Linked DNA regions of Homo sapiens: region 1 is linked to region 2. The links come from fine-mapping of genetic effects on gene expression. Tissue or cell type: whole blood. Region 2 holds a variant in brackets; the other region holds the start of a gene. All regions are shown on one strand. Distances are from middle to middle.

Region 1 (2,627 bases), 35 kb after region 2:
GCCTCTTCGGCGGCCAGGAGGCTGTCCTCCGCCTTGTGCAGCTCCTCCAGCACCCGGTCCCGCTCGTCCTCCGACACCCGCAGCAACTTCTCCTTGGCCGCGATGTCCTCCTCGAGCTGGGGGCAGCGGCGGGCGGGCGCGGGCGGCCGGCACGGACCGGGTGTTAGACACACACAACACACGGGCGTCGGGTTGGCTGGGGCCCCTCGGGCTCGGGGCGCCGCCGAGTTGGAGTGCAAAGGACCCGAGGTAACTTCCTCTTTACCCGAGCTGGAACCGCTCCGCGGCTCACCCCGCACACCCACCTGCCCTGGGACGAGACTCCTGCCGAGGTCTCAGCGGGCTCAAGTCCACTACTTGGGGACACAGAAGAACGCCACTGCTGGCCTGGCTTTCGGGCTGTAGCCTCCATTCCGCCCCATCTTTGTTCTTAGGTAACAACTCCAGGACTCCCTTCTCCTCCCCAAGTTTAAGGTTCCTTTCTCCCCAGTCAAAAGTCAACGAACTTCTAACACTTGAGTTACTCGACCCCCTTTCTCCATCCCTCGCCCTTCCTTCAAACGTCCCCAGGAACCGGGTGTCCTCCTCCCTCCCCCAAACTGATTCCCAGTCCTGAGAATAAAGCGCCTCTAGGACTTGATTTCGCGGGCCATGGGAACCAGAGAAGGGAAATAAGCGTCCTCAGACCAGACTAAGTTAGACTAAGCCTGGCTCTTGCGTTTCCCTTCCTTCTTTCCAGACGCGCGCCCTGGCCGCCCTGGGTGGTGGTGGGGGTAGGGTGGTGGCTCCCCGAGTCCTCGGGGTGGGGATCCAGCCGGGGGTGCCAGGCTCGAGTCCCGGCGCTCTGGGCGCGGGCGCAGGGCCGGGGAGGCGCAGACCTGCTTGCTCCTGTCTTCCGCCGCCTTCTTGTCGGCCTCCGCCTGCTCAGCTCGATCCAAGGCGTTCTCCTTGTCGAGCTTCAGCATCTGCATCTTCTTCTTGATGGCGTCCATGGTGGCGGCGGCGAGGGGCCCTGGGGCTGCAGCAGGAGCGGCGGGGCGAGCGCGCGGTCGGGCGGAGGAGCGGGAGTGCGAGCGCGGAGCCGCCTGCTTCTCCCAGATATGTACTTTCCCAAGGGGGCGACCGCATTCCTCAAGACAGCCAATACTTTTTTGGAAAAGCTTTTTTCTCCTGCCCCCCTTCCTCCTCTCCTCCCTCCGCCCCGTGCCCCCTCCCCGCTCCTCCCGCGGGGGCCGCTCGCCCATTCGCTGCCGGCCGCCGGCCTCCCAGTTGACGGTGGATATGACTATATATGGGGACCCGAGCCGCCGAGGCGGCGGCCGGAGAGGCCGCCCTGTTTCTAAACCTGCGCGCCAGGGAGAGGGCGTTGGGGCCGAGCCGGGGCCGAGGCGCAACCCTCCGCCCTCCGCGTGCCCTTCTCCCAGGGCCGGCACCCAGCCATTAGGGTCCCCAACCGAGCCCGCCCTGAGCTGCCGGAGGCCGGGAGAGCGCGGACCAGGTGGTGGATGCGCGTCGCCCCCCTGTGCCGTCCCCCGGCGCGCTTAGCCAAAGGCCCGGGGGCTTCCCAGCCGTGCTGCACCCCGCGTCAGGGTCAGTGCGCTCTCGGCACCCGCCAGCGCCTCCCCGGCAGCTCTCAGCCAGCCAGGTGTCATCCTGCGCGCTCACGCTCTGGAAACTCAACTGCAGCAGAGAAAGGGAGAACGTGGGAGAAAGCCTGGGGCGGCTCTTGAGACTTTCTCTGCGGGCGCGGGTCAGAGAGGCAGGGGGCGGCACAGCGACAGCACACGGAGTCTTGTTTTCTGCCTGCCCTTTCCCCCAGCGGAGGGACAGTCAAATACTTTAGGGACACAGGACTCAGTGGCGTACTTCTGTGCTTGCTGTGCAGTGCCTCCAAAAAGGTGTGCATGTGTGCGTGTGTGTGCGGGTGGCAGTCTAAGGGGAAAGAACATTGAGTTTAGACTCAGGCAATTTGGTCTGTGGTCTCTACTCTGCCACCAGCAACTGTGAGACCTTGTTTGCTGCCCGCGGCTTCCTCAACTTTAAATCCAGCGGGTAGATAATCCCCGAGGTCCCTCCAGATATAACTTGTTATCATTTTTCTTGCACTGATTTTAGGGAGTCGGCCTTCCATGTTAGATGCTTAGGTGCCAGGTTTCGGAAAACATGGGATCGGCGTTAACCTGGCTAAGTCATTGCATCCGCAGCCGCAACTCTGAGGAGGCTCTGCCGTGTGAGCTGTGCTTGGAAGGAGGAGGATTTCCCCCAACACTTCTTATTTTTAACTACTCCTCCCATCTCCCAAGGGGGAAAGGCTGCTTTTTTTCAGAGCTTCAGTGGGAGGGGAGGAGAGGGGGCTGCCCCCAAGCCCTGAGATCAGCTGAGGCAGGGTTGGTGAGGGTCTTGTTAATAGTCCCCACAGAATAATTCACAGTCTGTACTGCATGGTTACCAAATATTCCCCGGACGGTATCTGAGCAGATTAGGCAGGCCAAACAACTTGTAAGTCCTTCAGAGAATGATCAAATTCCTCTCCAAGATTTTATCGGGTTTCTTCCACTAACCTAACTGCCCAGGAGGGAAAAGATACACTGACCTAATGGTCAGAACATTAGATCTGACCATTAGCA
Region 2 (2,757 bases):
CCCATCAGTCCTAGTTGTGAGAACAAAAAATTAGAAAAACCCAGTGATCAAAAAGAGGAGAACAAATTATGGCACATTAACCAGAAGACTAGGTGAAGCAACACAGGAAGATGTTTATGCAAAGTTTTTTGAATAAAAACCAAAATTTTGAATAAAAAGCCTTCCATAAACACACAGGCAAAACATATGGAAAATAAGTTTTTTTTTTTCCCAGTGGTGACCTTTTTTTTCCTTCATAGTTTTTCTCTATTGTTTTTATAATGCTTTGTGACAAATAAAAAATGTACACAATTATATGATGGCATGTACCTCATGTGTACATTTTGCTTATTTCCCTTGCAACCCAGTATCCAAATGTGCCAAATAGCTTTTCATTTGAACTTGCAAATTGCTGCATGAAATTTAAATATTCCTTTAAATACACAACCCACATCAATTGCTGTTATACAAATTGGAATGAACTCTTCAGGTTCAAGTAGTTTTTATCCAAATTTAATTATCCATGTTTATCAGTAATACTTTATGTTTCTGGGGTAGGAACCAAAACAAGGAGAGCAAAAGGGGAGCTCCCAGCCCCCAGCAGTTTACATTAAAACAGCACTGAAACCCAATTCTCTCTCGCCCACTGCCCCACTACTCCTCTTTCTTGGAAGGCTGGAAAATGGGTTATCTGGAGACACCCAGGGCTCCTAGCCCATTAGGATTAGGGAGGCTCTGAACCTGGCTGAGGCTTCTGAAGTCTGGCAGCCTGAGCAGATCAGGTCGCTGTCTGCACTAGCGACTATAGCAATCAGCCTGGGGAGGCTTCTCGTGGGAGAAGTGAATGTTAGCGGCGATCCTCATCCATTTGCTTTACCAGAAACCAAAGGCTCCTTCAGACCTCCCTGGTGGAGTAGGAAGCTGATTTTATAGGCTCTAAGAGTATATGTGTGCATTCATTTATGCTCTTTCCTTTAAAGCTTAACAGATGCTCTAGGATTAAAGCAAAGGTATGGTAAGACCAAAAGTTTAAAAACAAACAAACAAACAAACAAACAAACAGAACACAACTACATGGCCTACAGCAAGGAATGAGAGGTGGGTAAGAGGGGAGGATTTTAAAATGAGAATTTGGTAGAAAAAAGCTACAATTATGAACAAAAAATTTCGTAGCCAGAGTAAGTAGTAAAACCAAAGCATTTTTAAACTAGCAGAGCTCTTGTTTCTAAGATTTGAGAGGCCGGGGTGAGTGGTGATTTGCCTGTGGCTGGAGTACCCCTGAGAAAATTATAGAGCATGCCCAGGAGAGCCTTTTCTACTGGTTTTAGATGGTTAGAAATCTACCAGGAAGGGGGCATGACATCTGTTTCCATGCAGTCTTGTATCATTTACTGTCTATTTGCCATGTAATCATATCCTGTTTTATTATTTTTTAGTG[C/T]GTTTGTGCACATATTCAGTTGCTTCCATAGACTCCTTGAGGGCAAGACGTCTATTATACTTTGTCTGTATTGTCCTATAACCCCCAACCTTGAAAACAGACCAGGATTTGCCATCATGATGTTTGCTGGCTTCTCAGCCCCCAGCCCCACAGAGCATCTGCCAAGAGGAGCTGACTCTTCTACTCCTCCGGCCCATCTGAGCCCAAAATACAGTCCCCAAAATACTGTAAAACATTCTTAAATGGAAATACAATTTGTCTTGTAGGCAAAATTATGAATCTTAACTTTCATAATTTTAGTTACTAGAAGACAATATGGAAGCTCTGTGTCTGAGAGAAAGTGAGCAGAACAAGAGATTAGAGTAACAAAAAATTGTAGCCAGAAGGGAAGAACGAAAGCCAGAAAAAGGAGGCATGGCGGATAGGAAGTTTTCAAGTAGAGGGTTAACAACTGAAGAGAGATGAACAGTTTGGCCAGGATTTGAGCCTAGCAACTCTTTGTTGAGGCACATTTTCTTGACATTCCTATTCTTAGGCAAATTATTCTGCCTTTGCTCTTTTTAATTTCTCCGGAAGGTGCTAGGCAGACAGTCCCGGAGTGTTCTGGAAAGGAGTGCTTTGTGTGAAGATAGCAGGAAAACAAATCATGGGAATGACAGGCTTCGAGCTGAGTAACCCAGGGGTTAATCACTTCCCGCTGGCTCAGGCTTCTGAGATGCAGGTATGCTTTGGCCATTCCTAGGAAGCCAGCATCCCCTTCAAAAACAAAAGCCCCTACTGCCTGGGTGTGGGTTCCCATTTCTAATATTTACATCACTGGGCTTTGGGCAACTATACTTAATCCTTTTGGGAATAGTGATGGGGCTCACTTCAGATAAAGGCGTCCTTGACCACAGCACGATTCAAGCAGTTCCTTGGCAAGTGTTTCATTGTGAAGGGTGGTTTTCATAGAGGAAGTGGACTTTGGGGTGAGGTGGGGGAGTGGAGGTGCAGGATGTGGGCAGCCCATCGAATCCCAGCTCACCAGAAGGCCGAAGGGCTATATTATACCAGTGCAGGCATCTGGGAGTTTAACACTGGAGTCATGAGTCTAACCAAGAGTCCCACTGGAAAGGCAGCATTCCAAATCCTTTCTGAGTGTCTCTGGAGTTGAAAACAGACCAGGACTTACCATCATGATGTGTGCTGTCCCCTCTGACCCCATCCCCATGCAGCATCCGCCAAGAGGAGCCAACTCTTCTGCTCCTCCGGCCCCCCTGTGCCCAGCCGGCCCCTCCGGAGACACAACAACTGCTTCCCTGCCACAGACAAAGCATCTTTCACCTTCCCGGTCATTAGCT

The links. PIP is the estimated chance that this variant, and not a neighbour inherited with it, causes the effect.
Region 1: TPM1 starts here. The variant in region 2 is fine-mapped to the expression of TPM1 in whole blood (INTERVAL, PIP 0.95).

What each region holds. Positions count from the first base shown.
Region 1 is chr15:63,041,195-63,043,821 of GRCh38, reverse strand. It overlaps TPM1 (tropomyosin 1), which reads right to left and starts at 1,075. Exons shown (of 10, transcript NM_001018005.2): 1 at 879-1,075. The coding sequence starts at 992. RefSeq lists enhancers at 1-303, 1,217-2,131.
Region 2 is chr15:63,076,140-63,078,896 of GRCh38, reverse strand. No RefSeq gene overlaps it. Among named protein-coding and RNA genes, the nearest start is that of TPM1-AS, 28 kb to the right of the region's middle. RefSeq lists an enhancer at 1-147. The variant C/T (reference allele first, on the strand shown) is at 1,418.